Linked DNA regions of Homo sapiens: regions 2 and 3 are each linked to region 1. Evidence: fine-mapped expression QTL. A gene starts in region 1. Each other region holds a variant in brackets. All regions are shown on one strand. Distances are between the middles of the regions. Region 1 holds the start of GPR87 (G protein-coupled receptor 87). Region 2 overlaps MED12L (mediator complex subunit 12L). Region 3 overlaps MED12L (mediator complex subunit 12L).

Evidence for each region. PIP is the estimated chance that this variant, and not a neighbour inherited with it, causes the effect. A credible set is the group of variants that fine-mapping cannot tell apart.
Region 2: its variant is the best candidate, but not a certain one, in a credible set for the expression of GPR87 in esophagus mucosa (GTEx, PIP 0.54).
Region 3: its variant is the best candidate, but not a certain one, in a credible set for the expression of GPR87 in neutrophils (BLUEPRINT, PIP 0.53).

What each region holds. Positions count from the first base shown.
Region 1 is chr3:151,311,422-151,322,614 of GRCh38, forward strand. GPR87 (G protein-coupled receptor 87) reads right to left here and starts at 5,399. Exons shown (of 3, transcript NM_023915.4): 1 at 5,165-5,399. All of the region lies in intron 16 of MED12L (mediator complex subunit 12L), which reads left to right. RefSeq lists an enhancer at 4,785-5,984.
Region 2 is chr3:151,328,546-151,339,738 of GRCh38, forward strand. All of the region lies in intron 16 of MED12L (mediator complex subunit 12L), which reads left to right. It overlaps P2RY12 (purinergic receptor P2Y12), which reads right to left. Exons shown (of 3, transcript NM_022788.5): 3 at 8,298-10,314. The coding sequence starts at 10,300. The coding sequence ends at 9,272. It overlaps P2RY13 (purinergic receptor P2Y13), which reads right to left and starts at 1,004. Exons shown (of 2, transcript NM_176894.3): 1 at 936-1,004; 2 at 1-462. The coding sequence starts at 983. The variant A/G (reference allele first, on the strand shown) is at 8,503.
Region 3 is chr3:151,341,042-151,348,271 of GRCh38, forward strand. The region is part of intron 16 of MED12L (mediator complex subunit 12L); the gene reads left to right. All of the region lies in intron 1 of P2RY12 (purinergic receptor P2Y12), which reads right to left. Among named protein-coding and RNA genes, the nearest start is that of P2RY13, 15 kb to the left of the region's middle. The variant T/TA (reference allele first, on the strand shown) is at 3,264.

The DNA.
Region 1 (11,193 bases):
TATAGTTTTATTTTTCCAGCAGCCATCATGGTATATGCTGACACATTGATGTAGTAATTACCTTTTAAATGGCATTTACTATTCTTCTATTAATTTGTTTTGCTATATATAATATAGGCATGTACCGTTTTGACCTAATGCAAGCCATTATCCTCTAAAAGTTTTCATTTTTTAGGTTTTTAAAATGCTTAGGTGTGACAACTAGAATACAATTGTAGCTGCGATTATTTAAGGATTGCATATTACTTTGAGCCACATTCTACTTCATCATGATATGTAGCACTGTTTTCTATATAAATATATCTAGTAAACAGTTAATTTTAGGCCAGGCGTGGTGGCTCATGCCTGTAATCCCAGCACTTTGGGAGGCTGAGGTGGGCAGACCACGAGGTCGGGAGTTCAAGACCAGCCTGACCAACATGGTGAAACCCTGTCTCTACTAAAAATACAAAAATTAGCCGGGTGTGGTGGCAGGCACTTGTATTTCCAGCTACTCAGGAGCTGAGGCAGGAGAATTGTTCGAACCTGGGAGGCGGAGGTTGCGGAGGTTGCAGAGGTTGCAGTGAGCCAAGATCACGCTGTTGCACTCCAGCCTGGGTGACAAAGCGAGACTCCGTCTCAAAAACAACAACACAAAAACAATTGATTTTGCAGTTTTTCCCAATTTGTCTTGGAGCCGGTTTATCTAAAAAAGTTTTGAAAGGCCCAGTGATTTATTTTCAGTTTTATTTGTAATTTTGGGGCCTAGCAGGTCTGAGGAGGAACAAGATGGGGGACAGGTAGGTCATCCACCCCGAAAAGAGTATAGCAAATCCTCAAATGCCTACAGTCTAGAGGCAACAGATATTTATGCATTGTTTTCTTGGATCTCTCTTTTTAGTTCTCAGCCTGAGAGCCACAGAGCTTCATACTCTAGTATGTGCAAACAGTCCAAGTATTCTGTTAACTTTTTTCTTTCTTAACTAGATCATAAGCTCCTTTAGTACAGGGACTTCAGATCATTTTGTTTCTGCTGCCCTTTTGGTATACTGGCCTTTGCTTTGGAGGCATTCCGAATCTTGATATAGTCAGTAAAGGGTACCCTCTAGACTCAAGGACTTGGAAAACAAAGTTTCACTTTGTTATATGTCCTCCAGAGAGTTTCTCTGGTGGTCAAGAGACAGTAATATCTTTGACCTGAGAGCCTGTTCAGGCTACAGGGCAAAACCCTTTCTGGGAGCTTGAGAAGTCTAAGTGTCTATCTTGCTACATACAACAACAGTAAAAGAGCTCCCCAAATGCTGGCTAGTATTATTGTGTGCCTAGAAGTGTTCTAAATTACCTATGTATATTTTAATTTATTAAAAGGACTTTGGATTCACATTACAGGTTTGCCACTTACTTGGGCAGGTTACCCAACCCCTCTGTGCCGCCTTCTTCTGTAAAACAGCCCTCATAAGATTGTTTTGAATGAAGTATTACCATAGCATAGACCTTTTATTCAAACTTGACATGTAGTAATAACTCAGTATTGACATGCTACTTGAGTGGGTAGTAAGAATTAGTACTCTAGTTTTTCAGATGAAAAAACCTGAGGCTTAGAGAGAATACTTGGAATACAATATACTTGGGCTATTTGCACATGTTATTTGTTCTTTGAGCAGATATGTGCTGTCGCTGGAGTGCTAGAGCTTGCCCTCATTAACACCACTAATGAGGGGCAGAGCCTGGATTTGAACAGAACGTAAGCCCATCTCAGTGCTGTGCTCCTAACTACCGCTCTGCTACTGCCTGCACAGAAGTTTGGTATTCATGTGCTGATTAGCACCTGATGCCTCCTTTGGGAAAACTACCAAGTTAAAATAGCTCCAACTTGATTGCAGGGGATCATGCACCCAAGTTGGCCATTTATCTACTGTAGTCTATACTATGGTACTAGTATATGGTAAATATACAATAAGTCTATATCATTTTACATATGAAACTACCCACAAAAAGAGGTAACAGCAAATACAGCGTGGTTGACTGTGGGCAGTGGTTCAAGGTCAGAGCTGTGCTCCCTACTGTTATGCTTGTTAAGCCTCAGTTTGCTCAGCTGTAAAAGTGGATAATAGTAATTTATACCTTAAGGTTGTCTGAGTTAAAAAAAAAAATGCATGATAAGGCCAGGTGCGGTGGCTCACACCTGTAATCCCAGCACTTTGGGAGGCCGAGATGGGTGGATCACCGGGTCAAGAGATTGAGACCATCCTGGCCAACATGGTGAAACCCCGTCTCTACTAAAAATACAAAAATTAGCTGGGCATGGTCGTGGGCGCCTATAATCCCAGCCACTTAGGAGTCTGAGGCAGGAGAATTGCTTGAACCCAGGAGGCAGAGGTTACATGGTGGTGGGCGCCTATAATCCCAGCCACTTGGGAGGCTGAGGCAGGAGAATCGCTTGAACGCAGGAGGCAGAGGTTGCAGTGAGCAAAGATCACGCGACTGCACTCCAACCTGGTGACAGAGCGAGACTCCGTCTCAAAAAAAAAAAAAATTGCATGATAAAATATGCAGTAATCTTGTCACATATCAAGCTAGATGTATATGCTAATTATTGTTGTTTTAGTATTAAGGATAGAAGGACAGTTTGTGCCATACGGATCCTATCTAGTACATTAGAAAAGGTCATTTAAGGAGCTTTGCTCTTCTTTTAAAATGATGGAAATCATTAGAAATTACTGTTTAAGAGAAACTATAGAATCATTGATATAAATGACTTAATGTCATGGCTTACACTAAATGGAACTTAATCAGTGCTCTCGCTTAAATGTATTTTAGTGTAATTTTTTAAATGTTTGGCCAATAATAATATTAATGAAACAAAATATGTTAATTAGGTACAAGATAGAGAACAAATATTCTATTCTGCCTGTGTTTGCCATATAAGGAGGGAGAGGATTTCGTAATATTTGTAAGGTCAGAAAGAACCTGTCTTTCACCATTGGCCTGAAGCAGAAGGTCTGAGAGGTGGGTGCATCTCATCTAGTTTTTAACAGCAGGGTCACCTTGCATTTGCTTCTGCTCTTGCCTCCCTGCTTTAGATAGTTACAAGTATAAGAACTGCAGCTGGCACTTGTATTAATACTTGTATTAATGCAAAACTTTCAGCCAGGTAGGAAGAGCAAATAGTACATTCATCTTCATCTTGTAGAGGAAGAATCTGAGACCTAGCGAAGTCGAGATTTGATTAACATCACGTAGCTGGCTAGGGGCAGAATTGGGAAGGTCCTCATTTGTGGCTCTACCCCATTTCCTCTCAAGCATTCCTGTGTGCTTGGTCCAAGCCTTGGGTTCTTTCATTACCAACCCCAGCGTCTCAGCATATCACCTGGATCGTGGGAATCTAGAGATGCAAGGGGCCTCTAATGACCCTCTGATCTAATCCCTTCATTTTACCTGTGAGGAAGGGAAGTGAGCTCCTGGGGAATTCAGAGACTTGCCTAAGTCACACTGATAATATTTGGTACAATCAGCCCTTAAACCCAGGTCATTTTGCTGTGAGTCCTGGGCTTTCTACTTTAAACCCAAACTACTGCCTCTTGCCTGCATAGAGAACATCTACCCTGGAGACTGGGGGATGCTTCTAGGGAGGTGACTTTACGTAGATTTCACCTCACTTCTGTCCTGTCTTCACAACCTTACCCTTTATTGGGCTTTGAGGGATTTTCATGGATTTTCCAGGCTTTTCTTATTTCAGGAGCATACAAGGAACTAATGGCCATTGTGGTCTCCTCTATCTTAACTTTCCTTGGTATTTTCTCAGAGTAAAGAGCTAAGCGTGAAATATTTTGTTGTTGTGGTTCTTAAAGAGAGTTAAATGCCAAGATATTAAGGAAGAAAAGCAGGCAGACTCTGAAGAGCACAAACAGCACAACTCTAAATAAGAACATTCCTTTTAACTTAGTCTTCCTTTTCCCACCCACATCTCTGAATGCAGTAAATCCTCTTAGCATGTTATCTCTGGTTAGGGCATTTTCTCAGTGTCTTCATGAAATAAAGATTTTCTGGCGGGATACTTTCTTTTTATAGGCTGTATCCTTAAATATGAAATTCAGCCATCCATCTGCTCTTCTAGGCCCTTGTCCTTAACCCATGTATACCTGCAACACATTTCAAGTAGAGGTCAGAAACAAGAGTCTGAGGATGAGATGTTGCTGAAGGATTAAGAGAATATGCCTCTTTGATCCCTAACTTCATGGAGACAGTTAATCTCAATTGGCAGAAATAATAAATATCAACAGGGTGTCTGGCTTTTTTCCCCCCAGTATAAAGTAATATAGAACCAGATTTGTTGCTGTTCATATTGCTAGTAAATTGGAGAACAATTATGAAAGAAATCTCTTGTTAAAAATGTTAATATACCTAAAATAAAAGCAGATTCAACTTGAGAATGTGATGTAAAATTCCATAGCAGATAAATCTTAAAATAAGAAATCAAAAAGTCACTCTACTTTAGGCTCATCTATCTTTTAAAAGTCCTTATTAAAATTTAAAAGAACTGAGATCTCCATGCTTGCTTCTTGTTTTCCTCATTGCAGTGAAAACTTCCCAAACAGTTTGAATGTGGAACAACAGTAAGCTGTTCCTAACCTGTTTGTCAGTCACTGGGCAGTTTTCTCAGTGCCTTTCCTGACATGTTTTAACATGACTTCTCCAGGGATCAGAATGAGGATTGCCCTGTTCTTTGTGGTACAATGAAAAGACTGAGATTATTTTATCAAAATGAGACAGTTGGGAAAGAGAAAAATCTTTGTCTCTCTCTTTAAAAAAAAACAATACGGATAAACGATTATGAAACAAATTTTAAGTTTTGGGTCCTGGGAAACAATTATAAGAGACTTTGACTTTTACTCATCTAATAAAGTAAATGTGGTTTAAAAAAAAATGTACTAAATAGGAGTGATTGCCAAAACATTGTTTCTACTTTTGAAGGCACAATATGTAGTTTATATTTCTGCCTGCCTGAGCTGGAAACAGTTGAAGCTTCATGGCTCACAGTGGTGCCTCATATCTTACTGTCAGCATTCTAATTTCTAGTTTTTCTTCAAACCTCAGAGTTAAGCAGAAGTATAATTACAGTTTTTAATCATTGCTGTGTCTTATCAACCACGGCTTTTAAGAAAATGAAAAATTTTTCGTTTACCTTTCATTGTGGTGGCTGGCTGTCCATTCACCTCATACGGTGTCTTCAAGTTGAAACAGGTTTCTTGTCTCTAATTAAGAATAAGCTTTGAAACTAAGGTCGGCAGGGAAGTGGATTTTCTGGTAAAGCATGAAAACGAAACATCTCCCCTACCAGACAAGGTAGGTATCTCCCTTACCCCTTTAGAGATTGTCCTTTGGGGCACCCTTTCAAATTCTCCTGCCAGGCGACTACTGGAACAACTTGCTCTCTTGCTAATGTAAATGACTCATAACTAAGAGTAGGTGAGATTTGTCGACTGGGGAAGAGTATTTCCTGAACCTGCAGGAATCAGATGGTGATTCACCTGAAGGAAACACAGAGGGCTGGAGCTTAGACTGCCAGAAGTCTGCTTAAGGAGTGGGGGATGAAGTCTCGGGTTGGGGCCTACTAACTCATCAGATCCAATTTTTAGGTCATTTTTTTTTTCCAGCCTCCTATTGCTATCTAGAAAACATGTATTTGCAGCCTTCCTGCCAATTAAATTTTGGATTAAAAGAAATAAGAATATGCTTTATGACAGATGAATTCTTTGAAAATATTATTCTACATATTATTTAAAGAGTATTGTTGTAATTGATAACTTTGGAAACTTGTAGTCTTATGAAACTAATGAAATCTGTAGACATATTTTTACACATACACAATAGACATATTTTTACACATACACAATGATAAGTATTCAAAATATGTTAAATTATTCAGGGGCTGGGTTCACTGACTCCTTTGAATGCTGACCTTTAACATAAAACAATTTATTTTATTGCTTTAAAAAAGCATCCAACAATGACAAATTTATATAATCATATCACTTTTTTTTTTTTTTTTTTTTTTTTTTTTTTGTGAGACGGAGTCTCACACTGTTGCCCGGGCTGGTATGCAGTGGCATGATCTCAGCTTGCTGCAACCTCCACCTCCCGGATTCAAGTGATTCTCCTGCCTCAGCCTCCTGAGTAGGTAGGATTACAGGTGCCCACGACTACACCCGGCTAATTTTTTGTATTTTTAGTAGAGACGGGGTTTCTCTATGTTGGCCAGGCTGGTCCTGAACTCCTGACCTCATGATCCGCCCGCCTCAGCCTCCCAAAGTGCTGGGATTACATGTGTGAGCCACTGCGCCCGGCCACTTTTTCTGATTTGTAAATAATTTTCTTGCTTTCAGATGAGAATCTCAAAGATTCTGATATTTTCTTGAATGCAACATTTAAATACATTTAAAAAAATAAAATTTCATCAAATGGAATCAAAACCTGTTATTGTGGATGAAGATAAATGAAAATAATCAAAGGTGAAAACTTTTTTGGAGTGAATAAATCTATAATAGGTATTACTTAGTGTTTACTTGTGTCTTAAGGAAATAATGTGTACGTACTAGTTGATTTTCCTTATGTTTTTACAGAAAAACAAATGGGTGTTTAACTTAAAAATCAAGAGTTGGGTATCAAAATTATATTTTTTGTATTTTCCTATCTGCTTCCTAACCATACAAAAACAGACACCTACAATTTTAATTTTTTTTTTTTTTACATTCTGCTTTGGGTGGATTAAGTATGTTACGGAAAAGTAGCTAGTCCTGGGGAAGGTGTTTGAATAACAATTAGCCAACTTAATAATGGCCTAATCTTTTAAGAATTTGCAGATTTACAAACAATCCTTCATTTAGTTTTGACTCTCTCTGTGCTATTTTATACTTCCCCATTGATTTAGCATTTGAAGCCAGTTTCTTTTCTTTTCTTCTTTTTTTTTTTTTGAAACCAGTTTGTTGTATTTTGAGCAGAAGGGTTATGCTATGCAGACTTTAGTTTGGGAGATTTGTCCTTGTGTTGACCTTTTTGCCATTTTTTCATGATGATTCATAAATAATAAATGAGGTACTGCTCATAATTTGACATTTTACTGCCAGAACAACTAACTGTTAAGTACTAAAGGCATCAGTCAAAGGGAGAAGCATCTCTTATGGCCCCCATAAAAGTATGTTGTGCAAAGAACTTTGCTGCAAGTACTGAGGATTATCACCCCAAATTTCCAGTGATGTGTATAAAATCTTAGTAGGGAGCTTATTCTGACAGATATTTGACAGGCTTCTGTTATAAGAATAAAGACCTTTTAAAAAAAAGAGAGGGCCCTACTGTGAAAGGGTTATCATAGGCCCTTCTAAGTGCGAAGAAGGGCTTGTGAGGGGCCTATGAAATTTTCCTGTATAATGAAGCATCTTTAACTTTATGTGTGATGGTGTTAAGTAGGAAATAAGGTGATGTCCCTTCACTACAGTAGGTGGCCCCCTTTTTCTCCTGAAGTGGGCTTGGGATAGGATGCACTTTTTCCTTTCCCAATACCTCTGTAAGCAACGTGCCCGGGACGGTAGCCTAACAGCTGGCTTGGAGTGTTTCAGTGTTTCGTTGGCTGGCAGCGCAAATTTAGTATAGTAACAAAAAAGTTAACGCAAGGCAGCCTTTATGCGTTAGTCTTAAAGTATATTATGCCAGTCTCAAGTTGGGACTTGTGAAAGCTGGTCTTACCTAACATTCCAAAAGGGAAGTAATACATGTTTAGTCATGAAAAAAGTGTAACACTTTGATGCAAAGAGCAGCTAACAGCCAGCCCATAGCTTTATTATTGTTCACATAATCGAAAGGTAAACCAGCATAATTTTTTTCCTGCTGGTTTTTATAGCAAGTCTCACATTTCATAAAAGCCCCGGGAATCTTCATAGCGATAATTTCCTTTCCACTTCATTGGAAAATCCTGTTAAATGCAGGGCACTCTTTTATTAATTTTGTTTAGCCATTACAAACCCCAAATTTATTTTAAATACAGAACATCCAGGTGTGTGTGTGTGTGTGCGTGTGTGTGTGTGTGTGTGTGTGTGTGTGTGTGTGTGTCGGCCACCAGAAAACTTTAAAAAATTTTGTTTTGTTTTTATACTAGGGTGATTTTTTTCCTTCTAACATTATTTTTAAAGGTATTAAGACTACAAACAAATTGAAAGAATTGTTCAACTAGATTTCATCTAGATTTATAAATTGTTACTGTTTTTCACATATACTCTTCCCCACTCCAACATATTTACTGACGACAGTAAAATGTCAGATTATGAGCAGTACCTCATTTATTATTTATGAATCATCATGAAAAATGGCAAAATCTGCATAGCATAACTCTTTACTCAAAATACAACAAACTGGCAACAAACTAAACCAAACATATTTGGTTTAGTCACAGAAATTCAAATGAGGATTCCCGTAATCTTACTGATTTTTCAAAATATATTCTTAAAGAGACAGGGGCGCTCAAGGAGAAAAAGTGTCACATCTTCGAAGGAATTAAAATAGGTAAGATTACTCATAAGCCTTTCTCAGTCCTGAAATGAACTCTTTATTCTGTTTTCTCATGTTTTTGATATGAGACATTGAGCAAATGTATTACCAAGGCTTACCTTGGTTTCTAGTGGTTTCTCCATGGCATATGACTTTTTCCTCCCTTCTTTCTTTGGCTTTTCTGCATTGGTGTGGACCTGGGGACAGTGTTTCCTCCCAGTGTTGGTAGGCATAGTATTTGTGTTATAATCTCATTTTTCTGTATCACTAATCTCAGATGTATCTGTTTCTTCTTAAGGAAAATGCACATATAAAGGGCGTCATAGTCCTTTATAGTACACTAACTTGTTATTACAAAACAAAGACAAGCAGGGATCTAATTGCAACATAGCTCAAGGTGATCTCTCTTGAATGCCCGTGTTGGTCTTTTCCATGTGGCTGGAACATGCAACAAGGATTATAGTAAAACCTTTGCCCAAGTCTTACTGTTCCATCTCTGTACACAAGTCTTTCTAATTGTGGCTCACATCCAGTAGCTGAGAACTTGTGCTGAGTATAATTATTATAAGCCCTTTAATAGTCAGTCCTTTGACAAGATTGGTATCATTGGGTCCCTATGCTTGAATTACTGTGTTTAATCTGTCATTTGAAATTATTTGTATCTATCAGGTCTGCTTTACACGAAACACCTTTTTCTGGTATGAGAACTTCATTTGATTAAAGGGAAGGGGGATGGTTTGGAGATTGAGTCTGGAGATAAGGCTGCATCTCTGACTGTTGTCCTTTTACTGATACTCCTTCCTATGCTGGGCAACTTAATCTATCTCCTTGCTTTGTAAATCTTGCTTGTGCGAGAGGCAGTGTCCGGCTGTGACAAGACTAGTGATTGGGGTCAGGTAAACTCCAATTTGGAACATCTCCACTTAGCAGCTTTTTTTACTTTGGGCAAAGCATATCTTCTTCTGAAAATGAGCATGGCAATGCCTGCCATGTAGGGTTGTAAAGCTTAAATGAGGTAATCTATTCAGGATAAATATATACAGTGTAGTTCCACAGTGTTTGGAACTTGGTTGGCATTTAAGGGTACAGGAGCACTTTGTCTTTTGTCAGAAGGTGAAGGGAGAGCAAGCGAATGAATGGGGTGTCTGATGCATGGTGGAGTTGGAATGATATGCCTCAGCTTAGAAGTTAAGGTACATCCATAATTTTGGTTGCTTTTAGAAAGCTTCTGGTTTCCTATTAGTGACAAACTGATGATTGCTTGAAATGCTTTTTATAATCTTTTTTGACAGTTTTTTTCTCCTGTAAAGAAGGAAGTTTGGACTTCTTTATTCCAGACTATCTGAAATTGTGGGAATCTATAAAAGCTGAGGTTAGAATATATGGGGAGAGAAGGGAGGTCGTCTCAGTAGGGTTACTGTGTTCAGGATAAAGCTTCATTCATTCACAGTTTGGGCATTTTTGGACTTAGGAAACTCAGTTGTACAGTTAAATAGAATAAAAAAAGACTTAAAGACCAGTGACATTATGTGTATATATGATATAAAGTCAATACATAAAGCTAATATTTTTTTTAAAAAACCCAAAGCTATGAAAGCCTTCAGAAATACATTAGATACAATTAAGATCAACACCAGTAAGTAAAGTCATATACACACATTTAACGTTTAAACTGAAGTTCAAAAATAAAGGTGGACATTCTGTTATTATGCCTCAGGATGTTATATTTGTCAGTTTGAGTTGTATTACAAGAGTGGCAAAAGTTCACATGCTGAGTAAGTTATGTAATTTTTAAAGAACTAGTTTACTTCCTTAAGTCTTAAATTTAATTTCCTTTCTCTTTCATATTATCTTGCCTTTTTCTTTCCCTTTTATCACTCCCCCCAATTGTCTCAACTTCCATTCCTACCATTTTCTCTTAGTGTCCCCATCTCTCCTTTCCTCTGACTTCCTTTCTTCCCATCTTATTTTTTTCTATAAGGACTTCATATTAGAATGAGAATGGAGGCAAGGAAGCAGAAACCCGGGTTACATGGATATTGAAAATATTGATACACCCAGTTTCTGACCAAGGCTGAGTTCTCTGGCCTGTGTGGTTGCACCCAACTGTTTGATTTGTACTTCTCTGTTAGCTATTTCACATGGAACATGTTCACTATGCACATCATAGCATAGAAAGGAATTATTCTACATGTTCATAGAAATCCCTGGGAAAAGCCTAACTAATATAAAAGCTGATTTGTTTCTCCCTGGAAGTCTTTTGAGGCAGGGTCTTGCTCTGTCATCCAGGCTGGAGTGCAGTGGTGTGATCATGGCCCACTGCAACCTCAACCTCCTGGACTCAAGTGATTCTCACACTTTTGCCTCCCGAGTTGCTGGGACTACAGGTGCATGCCACCAGGCCCAGGTAATTTTTTTTTTATTTTTTTATTTTTTGTAGAGTTGCGGTTTTACCATGTTGTCCAGGCTGGTCTCAAACTCCTGGGCTCAAGCAATTCACCTGCCTTGGCCTCCCAAAATGCTGGGATTATAGGTGTGAGCTACTGCATCTGGCGCCCCATGGAACTCTTTTAAACTGACTTATCCATTATGGGAAGATAAGGGTTGCTTCTACTTCCTCACTTCCCATTCACAAACTGGAGCTCACCCCACTTCCACCTCAGAGTTATCGTT
Region 2 (11,193 bases), 17 kb after region 1:
AAAGAACCAGATGAAGATTGAGACCGTTTTTGCAAAAACAGGTTTTTTTAGAAAAATATTTCTCAAAGGTCTGATGATCTTGAGGAATCTGTCAAAGGCTATGAGCCCTAACAGCACGATGCCCACATACATGGTCTCATAAAATATCACCGAAGAAAAACGACACACAAAAGCTCTGAGCTGCCAGGGTGCCAGGTGTGAGTCAGAGAGGATTTTGAAAGGAAGCATGAGTGTCATTATCAAGTCGGCCACCAAAGTGTTTTTGAGGTAGATGATGAAGGTGGAGGAGCTGGGGATGTGAACAAACACCCACAGAGCCAAAGTATTCAGCAGGATGCCGGTCAAGAAAACCACTGTGTAGAGGGCTGGGAATACCAGCTGTACTATCCGAGTGTCTCTGGGGCACCGCTCAGATCTGTTGAAGCCTTGCATCACTGTGGTGTTCATTGCTTCCAGTGTCACCTGTTACCAATAAACATATATACAAACAAAAGAAAACAAAAAGCCCTTCATGATTTTCAAATGCTATTTTTTAAAAACAGACTTTATGTTTATAGCATATTAACATCCTGCATTTATCCAACACTTTCAATAGATGTGTTGAAAAGGAAAATACTGTTTTCTGGCTAGAATTTTTAAAGCATATAATACATTTTTGGTACTTTTAACAGTACCATTACTTTCACATCCTTGTGAAATCCAAATAACAGGTTCTGCCTCATTCACAGGTGCTACTGTTAGCCATAAAACAAAACACTGTTTAAGAGATAATAATACATTATTATTACTAATACATCAGATTGCTGTAAATTATGTAATTTCTTATGCTCATAAACTATGGTTTGTAGAATATTAACTTTAAAGCACCTTTTTTCCCTTAAGCATATTCTTTTATATAAGCAAGCACACTCATAATAACAAAAATTGAAATTCACCTTTGGGAGGATACTCAGTTCTCTCTGTCTTCTTATGGCGGCAGTCATTAGTTCAGCCTACAAATGAGCATGTGAAGCAAATGTTCTGCTTTCTTATAGTGGATTTCCTTCCTTATTTTTACTTATGTAATGTGACCCATTAGAACCTCTTCATATTTAGACCTTTGGGACATTTGCTAATACTCTATTTTAGTTCAAACTTTCATACTGTTAATCTGTGACTTGAATAAAGAAGCTTATTTGCAATTATCTTTAAATTTCTTCATAACTTTCTTGAAGTTTATCTTCTTGATCTGCATGTTCAGTGAACTTTTTGAGTGCCTCTTGTATATAGTGGAAAGTAGAAAGATGAAGAAAATAGTCCCAAATTACAATCAAGTAGGAGAATAAGACTACCTAAAATCAGACAGAATAATCTTCTGTATCCTTGTAAACTGGATTTTCCAGTAATTTGTGTTCAGGAAGACGGTATGTTTATTTTTGTAGGTATTTGACTTAGTCTTCTGGTTTGGGGATCTCTGAGAGTTAACATGATGTTTTCTGAGAGGTGAAGACTATTAGATCCAGATTTTTGGAGTTAGAATCCCAGTTCCACCAATTAATTGGGATTAGATTATAGATAAATGATTCAACAGCTCTGTGTCTCAATTTCCTCATCTGTGTAATGGGTTTGAAAATAGTATCTAACACACTGTGTTATTAAGAATGAATTGGTTGCCTGGAATAGTGCTTGACATATAGGAGGCACTAAAAAATGTTAGCCACTTTTAGTGGCTTTTAGTCCCATTGCCATGGGAATGAATTGCAAATCCAGATAGAGATATTATACTCTTTCACTTAGTAGAGGGCCATTTTTAGAAATCTTTTTTGTATTTGGTGTATTTCGAGTGCAGAGGACTTCAGGAATTTCATCAATCAACATTGGGCCAATATCTGTGCATTTTTTTTGCTTTAATTCTCTTCAAGTTTGAAAGATGTAATGGTGCTTTTGCATAGAGAAAGTTGTTGTCCATGGCAGAAATCTACTTGCCAGGTAGGCATAGGAAAAGCGGAAATTAGGAGATCTTACGGAGGATGTGGAGTTCATGGTGAGTTTCATTTCATGTTTCTTGCCACAAGTGTTACCATGGAGTTAGACGAGACTAGTGTTAGTTGATCACAAAGTTTTGGGTGACTTGGCTTTGAATTCTGAGAAGAAAAACTTAATATCCCCCTGGACATTTTAAAATATGAGGCAATACAGTGTCTAATAGTTTTGATTAGACTACCCAATAACGGCACAGTTTGAAAAATTTCTCTTTGACTGAAATAAATTAATCCTTGGGAGTATAGATTCAAGATTTCATTAATAGAACATACATGTATGTCTTAAACATAAATGTATATCTTTTTGTTTGCTTCAGCAGAGGAAAAAAAATCCTTTATTTCTTAAGTAGAGAAATTTAACCTACAAAATTAATTGTAAATTTTCCTATAGCCCCAAATCCATAATCTAAAGGAAGATCTGGAATAGTTTTTCTTTAAGCAAGATAAATTCTGTGCAGGATAATTTCATAATCTGAAAACTGGAAATCACTTCTTGGTCAAATTTCAAAACACTGAAGTGTGGGAAACTTTCCAAAGAGGAACTGACTTACAGTGCCTGTTTCTAGAGTTATGGAAATAGAGTCTCTTAAATGTGGTAGATGTCAAAGTGTTTGACTATAGTAAATATCCAATAGATCATTCATTTCTATGTGTTTGTGCTTCTTATGTATTAGCTGATTTTTCCTTAGTTTACAGCAGCACTATTGCCTGCTGGGGAGGCCTTTTGCCCTTGAAGACACAGCTGAGAAGCTGCTCAGCAGAATGTTTAGGCGCCAGAGTGCCTGGGCTCAATTCCTTTTTCCAATTCTTTCTTTTCTTATGACCTTAGGCAAGCTGCTTATGCCCACTATGAAATGGTTGCCTTATCTTTACAATAAAAATAAATAATAGTATTTGCTTTACAGTGTTGTTAAAAGAATAAAATGAGTGAACATTCACCAGTGCTTAGAATAATGTCTGTCATGTGGTAGGTATCATGTAGGTTTCTTGTTAAATGAAATTGAAAGAAAATTGGAATGTTGTGCATACATATGGTGATGTCTCACGAAAGGAGAGAAGAATCAAAGAAGATACAGTGAAAGATCCCAGAGGCTAGGAGCCTATCAAATGGGAATAAACTAAACATTTAAGATCCTATAGGGCTCTAAGGAAATGTAGTTAAAAATCAGTAAAGTCACACTAGCTATACTGTTTTAAGTGATTATATTATCTTATTTAATCCTTAACAATCCCCAGAGATTGGTCCCATTTTTAGAGTTGAGAAAAAAGGAAATGCAGAAGTTAAGCCATTTTCCCCATATCATGCAACCCAAATCTGCCGTAAAGTCACACAGTTGGTCTGGTTCCAGAGCCCATGCTTGGAACCTGCCTCACTCTCTTGCCTCCGATTAAGCCATAGATAGGGTGACAGTGGAATTGTTTGCCAAATTCTGGAGTTCTTGAGCTGAAAGTTCCTGATGTGTGAGAAGGAAACAATCAGCCACAATGTTTAATGGACTTGTGAAACTTTATGCCAATGTAAATTGAGTGAAAGCAGTGTGATCAGAAGGGATACAAAGAAGATAAAATGAAAAGTCACAGAAATCAGTCTCTAGCCAGATAGGAATAAACTACTATTTCCATTTGTAGTCTTATTTGGGATTTCTCAGTTGCATCAAAATTGACAGTCCAAGGCCCAGTACCATATAAATAATATGTGAAAAGATGAGGAAGTATTTGCTTTCATTTGGGATGAAAATTGAAGTAGGAACTCCTATACTTCTATACTCTTAGAAAAGACTTTTACTTCCCATCAAAGTATACCATGGTACTTTCTCAGATTATGTGAAATTGTTTTAAAAATTCCATACAAGAGTAACTAAAAGTGGTAAACTAAAAGTGGTAATAATAAGCTGAAATAAGTTATACTTTTTATTAATGTAACAATCTGTTTTTCTGAGTAAGAACAATAGTAGAAAATATCTACATGTAGCTAGAGATAGGCAATAAATTCACTGCTATTTGGAACATTTAATATTTCACACTATGTTTAAAAATTGAAATACAAACATATATAGTAGAAAGTGAAAGTTAATACATATACATACCAATATATGTGTACAAATATATTTACATTTATTTATGTATTGGATTTTTGTTTCATTCCATGTTAGTACATGTAGACTGACGTGATTTTTTTTTTAACTTTATTTTAGGTTCAGGGGTACATGTGCAGGTTTGTTACATAGGTAAATTGTGTTTTGTAGGGGTTTGGTGTACAGATTATTTTGTCACCCAGGTGATAAGCATGGTACCGGATAGGTAGTTTTTCAGTCCTTACCCTCCTCCCACCCACTACCCTCAATGTAGGCCCTGGTGTTTGTTGTTTCCTTCTTTGTGTCCATATGAATTCAATGTTTAGCTCCCACTAACAAGTGACAACATCTGGTGTTTGGTTTCCTGTTCCTGTGTTAGTTTGCTTAGAATAATGGCCTCCAGCTTCATCCATGTTGTTGCAAAGGACACGATCTCTTTCTTTTGTGTGGCTGCATAGTATCTCATGGTGTATATGTACCACATTTTCTTTATCCAGTATACCAATGATAAGAATTTAGGTTGCTTCTGTGTCTTTGCTTTTGTGAATAGTGCTGTGATGAACACACACATGCATGTGTCTCTATGATAGAATAACGCCTATTCCTTTATGTATATACCCAGTCATGGGATTGCTGGGTTGAACGGTAATTCTGTTTTAAGTCCTTTGAGAAAAGCCAAACTGCTTTCCACAGTGGCTGAACTAATTTACTTTCCCACCAGTAGTGTGTAAGTGTTCCCTTCTCTCCACAACCTCACCAGTATCTGTTATTTTTTGACTTTTAAGTAATAGCCATTTTAACTGGTGTGAGATGATGTCTCATTGTGGTTTTGATCTGCATTTCTCTAACAACATGCCAATCAAATTTAAAATCAGTTATGCTACATAAATTTACCATAGTTAAGCTGCGACTGATGGGCATGTAGTTAGTTTACGATAATAGTTTTTCTCTATTAAAAACAATGCTATAGAGCATGTATGTGTCCATATATTTTTGAGCATTTTTTCTAGCATGTTTGTAGGAAGTTTCCTAGAAGAAGGATTATTGGTTCAGTCCTTCTAGGAAAAAGTTATTTGTCAAAATGTTAAATAATATTTTCAAATAGTTTTCCAGAAAGATTGTACCAATTTATTGTTCAATTAAGAGTGGGATTCTTGGCCAGGCATGGTGGCTCACACCTGTAATCCTAGCACTTTAGGAGGCCAAGATGAGTGGATCATGAGGTCAGGAGTTCAAGACCAGCCTGGCCAAGATGGTGAAACCCCGTCTCTACTAAAAATAAGAAAATTAGCCAGGCATGGTGGCAGGTGCCCGTAATCCCAGCTACTCAGGAGGCTGAGGCAGAGAATTGCTTGTACCCGGGAGGCGGAGGTTGCAGTGAGCTGACATCATGTCACTGCACTCCAGCCTGGGTGACAGAACAAGACTCTATCTCAAAAAAAAGAAAAAAAATCTTTTAAATTAATTTGAAATCTGTAAGTGAAAAAGCCATGTTATATAAATATAAATTTATTTCCTTATTGGTGATGTTATGTGTTTTTTCTTTCTTTCTTTCTTTTTTTTTTTGCCATTTCTATTTCTCCTGGAAATTGCCTTTTCATGCTCTTGCCCCATTTAAAAAAAAAAGGCGATTTCTCACTACCTATTGATTATGAAGTGCATTTCCACATCTTTAGTTCCCACTGACAGTATTGTAATCACACCTTGAGTGTTGGCAGTGAACAGTGATCAGATGTCTTCAGTGCAAAATGATTGAAACACCTAGGTACAAAAAGAGAGTTGTGTTTTTTTTTTTGTAAAAGGTTTTTTTCCACCTGTTTTTAAAGTACTGGTCCAGGGGGAAGCAGTCTTCTTTTTTAATTTTTATTTGTTTATTTATTTAGAGATGGAGTCTCACTCTGTTGCCCAGGCTGGAGTGCAGTGGCTCAATCTCGGCTCACTGCAACCTCGTGTGTTCAAGCGGTTCTCCTGCCTCAGCCTCCTGAGTAGCTGGGACTACAGGTGCCCACCACCACGCCCAGCTAATTTTTATTTTTTTAGTAGAGACAGGGCTTCACCATGTTGGCCAGGCTGGTCTCAAACTCCTGGCCTCAGGTGATCTGCCTGCCTCGGCCTCCCAAAGTACTGGGATTACAGGTGTGAGCCACTGCACCAGGTCCCCCAGTCTTCTTTTTTTTATAGAGCCAGTTAGAAAATACTTAGGTTTTGTGAGCCATGCAGTCTACATCACAGCAACTCAGCTCTGTCGTAGCATGAAAGCAGCCATGGATAAAACCTGAATAGTTGTGTTCCAATAAAACCTTATTTATGGACATTGAAATTCAAATTTCATATAAATTTCATTCGGCATGAAATTTTATTCATTTGATTTTTTTCCTCACAAACATTTGAAAAGGGGTACACGTGATATTTCATGTAAGTATACAATGTGTAATGGTCAAATCAGGGTAACTGGGATATCCATCACCTCAGGCATTCATTTCTTTCTATTAGGAACCCACTCTTTGAGTTACTTTGAAATATACAATACAGTATTTTTAACTATAGTCACCCTATTGTGCTATGGAACACTAGATATTATTCCTTCTCACTAACTGTATTTTTGTACTCATTTACCAGTACCTCTTTATCTCCTCCTTCCCCATGACTCTCTAGTAACTGTCATTCTACTCTCATAAATATGTACAGTTATTATGTATCCATAACAATTAAAAACAAAAATGAAAACAAAACATTCCTAAATCCCAAGCTGTACAAAAATAGGCAGTGGGCTGCGATTTGGCCTGTGGGCTATAGTTTGCCAACACCTGCTTCAGACCTTTTCTGTAAGAAACCACTGAGAAAAACTGTCAATAACCAATACCTTTAGGACTTGTAAGCCACTGAGGCTATGGGCAAGACTACATTTTGTTGTCTCATCTTTTGAACTTTTCACATCTGGACCTGAGTCTACAGAATTTGGCTTCATTTAAAAAAGTAAAACTCACTGTGAAATGTGGGGTTAATATATATTAATATGCCAAAAGCTAGAGATAATGGCATGTTTTATGTATAATGATCCCTCCATAAATACTAACTCTCACACTGTTTTGAATGGGTTTAGTTTGATGTAGTATATGATGTCTAAGGTCTCTGAATAAAGATATCCCAGCAAAGTGTGATTTTAGAGTTTTATGTAAAATTTCCATGGCATATATACATACTCATAAAACATAGGTAATTTCAAATACTTTCAGTTACTTTTACTAAAATACCATATTACTATTAGCATTTCTGTTTATTTCATCTCTTGTGGAAATTGTCATCTCAGTGACAAAGATTTTGGGGGTAGTTTGTGTCCCCTCTGTAGTCTCCGAACATCTGACCTCCATGACACTGTGAAGTAGTCAGTTTCAGTCCATGCTCTACCCCAACTTGAATGGGTGGAGGGATGAGTCTGCCTTTCATTTTTGTTATATGCAAAAGAAGAAGGTTAGATTAGTTGATCTCTAGATTGTCTTCTACCTCAAATATCCTGGTATTCCTATAGAACATGTAAATTTATGCATATGATTTTAGAGTGAACTGTACTAGTCTACATAGCAGAAATTATTACTGCTGTTTATCCCAGCAGTGTATAGGTTATATACTATATGAACTGTCTCTGTATCTCCACTGACACTGAGTGCTCACTTTTAGTGGTGCCGGAGAAAGAAATGTGGCTGGTTGGAAATGAATACCACTTAGTAGTTAAATGAGTTCAGCTTCGTAATGAAATAGAACTCAGCAGAGGTTGTAGAGGGTTTCAATAAAAGTGATTATTATTAAAGTTCAGTGAACTTTATACAACAATACACCCTTTTATTTCTTCTGGCATTATATTTAGGTATTGATGTCTGTTCCTCCTTCTGTTTGAGAGTCACCTCTGAGGATCATAAAAAATTGAGATAAGTGATGTAAACTTCCACATGTGTTATATGTTTTGTTTATGTTAAAATAGCGAATATGCCTTGTGTAGAATTAGACTGCATGTTATAAGTCTGACCTGTTTTATCATTTACATTTGAACTTATTGAAATGAGAAGTCATCTTCAGAAGAGACTTTGCACAATAACATGTAATAAAGGTGTTGGCATTAATTCTTAAATGGATTTGATGTAGTTGTATATGGTATGGTGAGTCATGGTATCTAATATCTTTGAACAAAGAATTTACAACAAAGAATGATTTAGAGTTTAATGTAAATTTTGTATTTTATACACACCAATACAAACAAGTAATTACAAACAGATCAATCACTTTCCTCTCAGTAGTTATGCTGTGCAACTTTGTAATCATATTTAATTAATTTTTTTCACTAAGGTAAAATGTTCATTAACCTAATTAGCAGCTATTTTCTAGAAGCTAATTAATAAAGGTAAGTGTCA[A/G]TGATGGTATTATTGAAGTTGTAAAAAATTAGTAAAACTAGTTTCTCTAGAATTAAGGAAATATTTCTATATTTTTTAGTATTAGAATGTCATAAAAGTAAGTCTCCTTATTTTAATGACTTCGATATTTCTTCTCTTTATTGTAAAGGTCTTCTTTAAATCTTTATCTTCTAAATAAACATAAAAAATTAAGTCCAATCAAATACAGTTTCAATTAGTTTAAATCCCTTAGGTTTTTGCTAATAATGAAAAGTTAATAGTTATTATTCTTTGTGTATCCCACTTACTTAAATTTTTATAAGTATCCCAATAGGTCAGGATTTGGTTAGGGGACTAGGATATATATACATTTTAACTATCATTTTTGGTAAGAAGATTATATCCAATTGATCGTTCTTCCTTAGTTGATTATGAAAAAATAAAATTGTGAACGATAATGTATTTTAAAAATTACAGTAAATATTATATGATTACTCATTTTGGCAAAACTCTGCAAAACATGAATTCTGTGTAGTTTTGCATGCAGCATGACAATTGGATGTCGTTTGTTTTGCTGCTAATACAGCTACAGTTTAGATTAGTTTTCTATATTTTAAGATAGCTTTTCATACTGGAAAGGTAAATGAAAATTGCTTTTGTAATCTTCTGTTTCTTTAGAGTCATTATTATTAACTTAGTTGCTTCTTCGTCAGTTAATATTTTTACTTAGCGCTTTGCTTTAACGAGTTCTGAACACAAAGAGATTGAAATATTTCCTTAGTTAATTTGTTTACATTGGAGTCTCTTCATTTGGGTCACCACCATCCTGTTCTTTTTTCCTATTGTCCTGGGACAGAGATGTTGCAGAATTGGGGCACTTCAGCATACTTATCAAGGAATTTCTGAAGGACTTGCAAAGGAAAAAATAGATGAACGGATCCAGGCATGCATTTAAGGAAGTTAACCACAGAGTGCTCTCTTTCACATAGAACAGAGTATTTTCAGCAGTGCAGTCAAAGACATCCCGGGTTTGGCTCAGGGTGTAAGGAATTCGGGCAAAATGGAAAGGAACAAAACAAATAAAGAATACAGCAATGATAATGAAAACTTTGACGTTCACCTTTTTCCTGGGGACTTTACCTACACCCCTCGTTCTTACGTATGACCGGTACAGTTCTTTTGTAATGAGTGTATAACATACAATAACAATTAAGAAATTAATCCAGAAAATGACTTGACAGATGTAATTTACTATTTCATGCCAGACTAGACCGAACTCTGATTTAAGGAAAGAGCATTTCTTCACATTCTTGTCTCTCGGCTGCCTGTTGGTCAGAATCATGTTAGGCAAAGAGAGTAAGAACATGAATGCCCAGATGACAACAGAGAGAATCTTAGCCCCCAAGAGATTTTTGGGGTTGGATGTTTTAAATGGCCTGGTGGTCTTCTGGTAGCGATCGATAGTTATCAGTCCCAGGAATGAAATACTGATATACATTGTGAAATAAAATATGACGGAGGTAACTTGACACACAAAAGTTCTCAGTGGTCCTGTTCCCAGTTTGGCATCACTAAGAATTTTGAATGGAAAAGTCAGAATCATGAGAAGATCAGAAATGACTGTGTTCTTAAGAAAAATAATAAAGTTTGATTTACTCCGGATTTGAAAGAAAATCCTCATCGCCAGGCCATTTGTGATAAGTCCAACAAAAAACAGGACAGTGTAGAGCAGTGGGAAGAGGACCTGGGTGATTTTGTAGTCTCTGGTGCACAGACTGGTGTTACCAGGCGCAGAGGTGAGGTTGTCGACGGCTTGCATTTCTTGTTGGTTACCTAGAGAACAAAAGAGAGGATGGTTATTTTCAGCCTAAGGTAGTTATTATTGCTGTTATCTCTGTGTGTAACTTTTTTGGACACAGCCTCCTCTAAAAGTTGAGGTTTCTCATCTTCATTGTAGTAGTTAGTATGAACACAGAAAACTGAATCCCAAAATATTTCATTGCAGCAAATATTGCATCTCTGCTGAAGAGAAATGATCTGAAGTACAATATGTGAAGTTATAGATGCTTAGTATTTTTTTATTTGTTGAATGTTTGCCTCTTAAAGCACATTTTGTCTTAGAGCTCACTCATATTTATATGCAAAAGCTGGAAGAGAAATAATGGGGCTGTGCTTTACTCTTCTCTAGCTTCCCCTCCATGCCTTTTAGCTTTTTGGTTTCTATTCACAGTCACTTTTCCCCCCAACGTCCTTATTTCTGAGCTTCTTTTACTGTAGTACCGTCAAAACAGTTGAGAGAGAAATGATGGATAATTGCCTGTTAGAATCCTAAAGTAATAAAAAGGGGGAAGAAATTGATGGAAAATTACTCTTGGGAAACTTATTAAATAAAATACTGAATCAGTAAAAAAAAAAAAAGCTGACCTTTTTTCTTTATATTTGGAAGATATTCCTGCCTCTATATTGCTCACTCATTCAAAGATTGGCCTCACGGAGATTCATTATTCTGCTTCAAATATTTTAACCCATGTGTATCTTATTTCCAACTTTCCTCAGTGTTTTGAAGTTGCTGCATACATTTTCTTGAATATCATTCAGTATAAATTTTAAAACAGTAAAAAAAAAAATAAGAGTCAGAAATGGCCTGTGTATATATGGTCATGAGTTGGCATTCCTCAAAACAGGGCATACTTTCCAGATTTATGGAGTGTG
Region 3 (7,230 bases), 28 kb after region 1:
AAGCCTTCGAAGTCTGCTTCCTGGAGAAGATTTTAAGCTTGCTTTCTTGGGTGGTTAATTTATCTGAAATATATTGTGTACAACACTGGGTGATGTATTTTCTTCTAACAAGTAATTATGTTAACTCAAAATGCGTGCTGGCTAGGGATGTTAAGTCTCTGGCCCTTTGTTTTTCCCTTGGTTAATAATGTCATTATTTTAAACCTGTGTTTGATTAACTCCTTTGTAGGTGAAACAGCTTCCTTCTATTATAAATTAGCAGATTCCAAAATTACATTAGAGAAGTGATTGTATCCATTGCCAGGCTTATTATATACTGTGTCGTTCATGCTTTTCTTGAATAGAATTTAAATATAAACAATTTTTTTTTGTTTCTTTACCTAACTTTGAGTTTTTGGGAAAATATAACATTAAATTAAGGCATCCTTGTATCACAATTATTTACAGTTGTTTAACTTTGAAACCAGAAGGGCAAAAAATATGTTAGGGGTGAGATTGAAGGGCAAAGTGTTTTGCTGCTTTAACTTTTTTTTTTTAATTTTATTATTATTATACGTTAAGTTTTAGGGTACATGTGCACAATGTGCAGGTTAGTTACATATGTATACATGTGCCATGCTGGTGTGCTACACCCATTAACTCGTCATTTAGCATTAGGTATATCTCCTAAAGCTATCCCTCCCCCATCCCCCCACCCCACAACAGTCCCCAGAGTGTAGTGTTTCCCTTCCTGTGTCCATGTGTTCTCATTGTTCAGTTCCCACCTATGAGTGAGAATATGTGGTGTTTGGTTTTTTGTTCTTGCGATAGTTTACTGAGAATGATGATTTCTAATTTCATCCATGTCCCTACAAAGGACATGAACTCATCATTTTTTATGGCTGCATAGTATTCCATGGTGTATATGTGCCACATTTTCTTAATCCAGTCTATCATTGTTGGACTTTTGGGTTGGTTCCAAGTCTTTGCTATTATGAATAGTGCCGCAATAAACATACGTGTGCATGTGTCTTTATAGCAGCATGACTTATAATCCTTTGGGTATATACCCAGTAATGGGATGGCTGGGTTAAATGGTATTTCTAGTTCTAGATCACTGAGGAATCACCACACTGACTTCCACAATGGTTGAACTAGTTTATAGTCCCACCAACAGTGTAAAAGTGTTCCTATTTCTCCACATCCTCTCCAACACCTGTGCTGCTTTAACTTTATGTAAATATTGCTTTGCAGAAACACACCTCCCTGGTGTCTCAAACTGCAGTGTCCTTCTGTTATCAGTGGGAATCATTTGTGTTGGTGCCTTTGCTGTGAACACGTTTTGGTTTTTTCTTCTGCGTTTTGAGTATTTGTCTATGTCTTTACATGTTAAATATCTTCATTGGTTTTCACAGTGCAGAGCAGCAGCTCTGCATCACTTGGGAACTTGCTAGAAATGCACATTTTTGGGCACCAATCTAGCTGAGTGAATAAAAAACTCTGGGGTGCCCCACCCTGCATCTGTATTTTAGTGAGCCTTCCATTGATGCTTGGTACACTCAAATGTGAGGACCACTGATTTAAATGGAATAAGAATTTTGTTGCCATTTAGAACTTGAAGCTATTAATATCAGTCACTTCAGACACATAATAATCCCCAAATGTTGGTCATCTTAAAGGGATTAGTTTGATATTAAACTCTTGGAAAGGGTTGTATTGTTATTTTTAAATATGACTATTGTAAACAAATCTTAGCCTTCCTTATTTGTTGGAGTCTCAAAATTTTAAAAAGAGCTTTTATGCTGTATGTACTTCAAATAATAATTGTCAATATTTAATTTCTTACACTGTCATGGATTAACTCACTTTATTAATAATCTCAACTATTCTCTGAAGTACGCGTATCATCCTCATTCTCTGGATGAGGGGAACTGAAGAGCAGAGCAGTGAAGTTAGATGGAGACCCCATTCTGACCTGTGCTGTCTAGTTAGCCTTAGAATCTGTATTTGTGTATTTCTGTACCTGAGAATCTTTCCCTATCACACCCTCTCCTCAACCCCTCTCCCACTAAGAGGCCCCAGTAGTGAGAAGTGAATCTCGTGTGGGATGGTTGTACGTCTTTCAATAAAATAAGGACCATACTCTCCTTTACAGCAAATTGTAAATGCTAAAGGATGTTTATGATGCTTTTTCTAAGACCATCAAATGAAACAAGGCTTATTCAAGAAAATGATTATTTTTAACAAATCAATCTGCCATATTACTAATTCAGAATACTTAAGTCATACTACCTTATTGAGAATTTATATTTCTAAACCTCTAGAAGGGCTAACAGTAGAGATTTGAGGGATAAAAGAAGGGCTTCAGTTCTTGATCTAAATTAACTTTATTTTTCCTCTGATTTTTAACTCACAACCACATACCTATTTACAAACCACCTCTGATAACATTTTTTCATTGGAGGAAGACTGCCAGTTAGACCACTTAATGCTGAAAGTGACTAAAATCTTTAAGTGAAAAGTATCTCAGTTACAGAAGTATATTTTCATATGAATAGAAGCAGAGCAAGTTATAGATACTTTAATCTCTCATTAGTAAATAACATCAACACATACAGTTTGTAGTTATTTGTGTTAGTGTTGGGAACAGAGCTAACTTTGGTTGGTTTGGTTATTTTGTATAATTGAGATGAGTTAGAAAAATGAACAGAATTTTTACTTTTAAGTGGCTTAACTGGTTTGTTTATTTTACCAAGTCTACTAAAGGTAGTCTGCTCATCTGAAAATGTTTGCTTCAAATGGGATTACTCTGAAACCTGTAGTCTTTTGGAACTGGGCAGGAGGATAGAGATATAATTATGACATTTGATAGCTCTTAGGCTGTTTTAGTTCCAGTGGTCTCTGGTTCTAAATGTGGTCATTTTGACATTAATATTTTGTTTGAGGGTGTGTATTTTAAAGCAGTGCATAGTCATGTCTGCTAGCTTGGCTTTATCCATTGGAATATAGAAATTTAGGTTAGATACCAACAGGTTCCAAAAGTAACGAGTCTTGGGCATTGAAATATTTCGCAAAAATGAATGCCGTCTTTTGTGACCTAGTTATCTGACATCCCAGTCTTAAGTGTTCTGCTTGCAAGAAGAGGACTAGTAGATATATAAATATCAGTCATACTGTGGACTATAAGCTGTGTAGAACAAAGATTTAATATACAAATGTAGTTAAATCCGCCTCCTATTTTCTTGATTTACAGAAAATATACTCTATGTATAGTTACTAATGAT[T/TA]AAAAAAAAACCTGTTAATTTCTTCATTCCTGTAACAGTTTCCTCATCCATGTGCACACCCATTCTTCCTCCCAGGCTCGAAGCTTATTCCTGATGGAACATTTATATGAACTTGTTTTATTCTAAACAAAATAGCATGGTATATTGAAAGATACAGCTGAAAGAAATAGTGTTTTAAGGCATCTTTTAAGAGTTATTTAATAAGCTAAAAATTTTAACTAAATGCATTTATTGTTTCTAAAGACTGGTTTTTACTGCTTTTCTTAGAGACGTGATAGGTTGCTATGTGCAGTTTACTTCCGGATATATACTGGATTTGCATTTGAAGTAGAGCATGCAAAAATTAGGAAGTACTGGGAAGTATGAAGTGCCATATTTTGTCTTATCAGAAGGACAATTACATCCACTTCATCTGTTTTTATTAGTGTTTGGAAGAAAGGAAGCGCATTCTGAGTGAGATCTTTTTCATTTTTCCTTAAGGACATTAGTAATTTAAAAATTCTATGATAATTGAATCATTGTTGAAATATCAGAAAATGTGAGTAAGGTGAAAGGATAATACACAGCTCTGATCATCTTACCATCATTATGACATCTTTGTCAACACATACACATTTTGGCAAAATTTCTAATCAGTTATTTTAAAGAAATAAAGATGAATTAGAGCAGACCTCAATTCCTTTAACTCCATTTCTTCTTTCTAAGGACATTTGGCTCAAGAGACATATTTTAATTCGTGTAGTACAACAAGCCTGCCAGGGTTTTGGGCATGCATGTTTCTAGTTTCTTCATCTATTAAGTTTCTGTGAGTATGAGATAATATCTGGAGAAAGAAAGTAATTGATCTAAAGGACGAGATTTTTAGAACTTAGTTTACATGGGAGATGACACATTCAATTCAATAGCAGCAGGTGGACTAGGATAAAAGAGGTAGCCTGACGTCTCCTGTAACAGACTCTCCAGTTGATGCTTTTCCTTGTCCAACAACTGTATCCTTGAGGGAATAAACAAGAGTAATTTTTGGGTGTTTATCTCAGATTATTAATATTACTTACAACTGTGCAACTTGAGGGCGTTTAAACACCAAGTTGAAAGAGCAGAAATCGTTGATACTTTTGAAAATATTTGGTATATTTTCTTAGGTTGACTTTATTCTCATTTGTTATGAATTGCTATTTGAAGGCTTCTACGTTTTCTTTCTTTTTTCTTTTTCTTTTTTTTTTTTTTTTTGAGACCAAGTTTTGCTCTTGTCACCCAGGCTGGAGTGCAATGGCACCATCTCGGCTCACTGCAACCTCTGCCTCCCAGGTTCAAGCAATTTTCCTGCCTCAGCCTCCCGAGTAGCTGAAATTATAGGCACCTGCCACCACGCCTGGCTAGTTTTTGTATTTTTAGTAGAGATGGAGTTTTCCCATGTTGGCCAGGCTGGTCTCGAACTCATGACCTCAGGTGATCCTCCACCTCAGCCTCCCAAAGTGCTGGGATTATAGATGTGAGCCACCATGCCCAGCCTACATTTTCTACTTGTATGAAAAACTGATGTAAACAAATCTTGTAGGCTCTTGAAAAATAGTAGCTTCTAAAATGCCTCTGCCTGTCCTATTTGAAGACTACTGTAGTAACACCTAGCATGAGTTCCCTGAAAATATTAATGCTAAGAAAGGAATACTGTCTTTACACCCCTTATAGAGGTTGAGCAGTGATTCTTTTCCAGCTCACTACGTGCTGCTTTTGCTTTCAGTTTTATCCCTGCATTCTCAACTCATGACTTTGTTCCTTGGCCCAACTCCCTGAGCATATCAAGGCCAAGGAATGATTTGAGCTTCTTAAGTGTCTTCTTCACCTCAAAATGTCTTTTTATTTTCACTAATTTTCTTTTTTTCCCGATGGTCAAGTAGAAAGATGTTCCTTTCTTTCTTTCCATATTAATCCAGCTAAGAGGCCATTGTCTCTTATATCCTTTATCATCAGTTATCTGTTCCCCAATCTTGATTTCTACTATGGAAATTTGTTTATTTGAAAGATAGGTCTGAAACAAGAGTCTTTTGATGATCTTCATAACGCTCTTTCCTCTCAAGCTGTTGTTCTTCATGCCCAACTCCTGGTAAATGTGGGTCACTTCCCTATCTTCACCATTTCATCATCACCTCTTACTTTAACCGCTTGTTTCTTAGCTTTGTGCCCTGCCACTTAGAGAAACTTCTTCTCCTTTGAGGTTCACACATGGTTTGTCAGTAAACAAGAAGTCACATCCATTGTGACTTCTTAACCTCACTGGACGTTGTCAGTGACACTCTTTCTTATGTATCCCCTCCCCTGACTTGTGTGACCCTGAATTATAGTATCTTGTTAATTAAGGAGCATGTATGTGCACCATTTGCTGGCTTATTTCTCCCCTCACCATCTCAGCTCTCTTAGCCCTTCTTCCCTAAACATAATGTGAAGGTTTTGCACCCCTCCCAGGACTTGACATACTGCCCTTATTCCTGAGCTGTCACCTCTGTGTTAGGGCCCATATCAAACCAATTACTGGACATTTACACATTTCTACCTACCCTTCAAATTCCTTGCAATTACATGTAAATTCAAAAGTTCCCTGCTGTTATAATGTATTAATTTTTTATACATTGTAAATAGATTAATAATAATTACTTGGTAATATAAACAATACTATTTATTAGTATACATTATAAATAATTTTAACTAGTGGATACATCTTGAAGTCCAGTGAGATGCACATTTACTCCTTGGGTTCAAAAGCCTGATCCTTTCCTAACTTCTTAGATACCTCTTCATTTTGCTTCTTAGTCTTCATTCCCACCACTAAAACTTAGTTCACCCTACAAACTTTTTTACTCTAGCTTTGTCTCTCACATCTCCCCTTCATTTTTCTCAACACTTAATCATCAGGTAAAGTTTCCTACAAAACTAATTTTTCTCCTTATCTTCACCTCTGCCCTATTCCTTTAGCTATATATTTGTTCATTAGTCTGCTTATTTTGTATTTAGTATGTTCAACAAATATTAGATGCTAATTCATTGCCTATTAAGGAGATTATAAAAATGAACAAAACAGACATGGAGTCTTCCACAAAATTTACACACTAATGAGGAAGACAGACATTAAACAAATACCTAGAAAATAAGTGAATTATACTGTAATAAATGCTCCAAAGTCTACTTCCCCTCCTTCTGTGGGGAGGTTTTCAATAAACTGGAGTGACAGAGTGAGGGAACTGACACTGTATTTGTACATAGCATTTCAGCAAGTGAAATCGTGGCTATGAGAGTATTTTAGGTGTAAGGACGAGCAACAGCAAAGGGAGGAAGTGCCCTGGAGTCTTGGTGAAATGTTGAGTAAGGCAGTTCGGTGTGGGTGTGGGGGATGTGCAGAGGAGGAGGGGAAGTCTAGCATGTGAATTAACAGTAGTGAACACTGTCCATTATACTTCGAAGCATTTTACACGCTTTATCCCAGGTTTTCTCACAAAAACCTTACAAGGAAGCGATGTTACCCCATTTTTCAGAGGAAGAATTAGAGGTTTAGAAAGGTTTATTATTCGAGATCATGGACTTGGCAAGTGGCACAACCAGTATGCAGTCACAGCTCTCTTACCCCAAGCTTGGGCTATTATCAGTAAATTTGGAGCCATAGTGATCCTGTGCGATGTGAGGAGCACGTGGCTCTTTCTAGGATGCTTTCCTTCACCACCCCTCTTTGGACTTCTAGGTCTGTAAATACTACTTTGATGACATTGAATCTGTGCTCCTTGAAGACAGGAATCATTCATCCTTGTATTTTTTCAGGGCTCCTAGCATTTTGTCTTGCCTCAAATAGATATTCTATAAACAGTTACTGAATAACTATGCTACAGTCATCAGCCTTCACATGGACATTTACATTAGGACCATCTGATATGCCTTAACTGAAAACAATTGCCAAAGCATGTGACTGGCACTGCCTTCA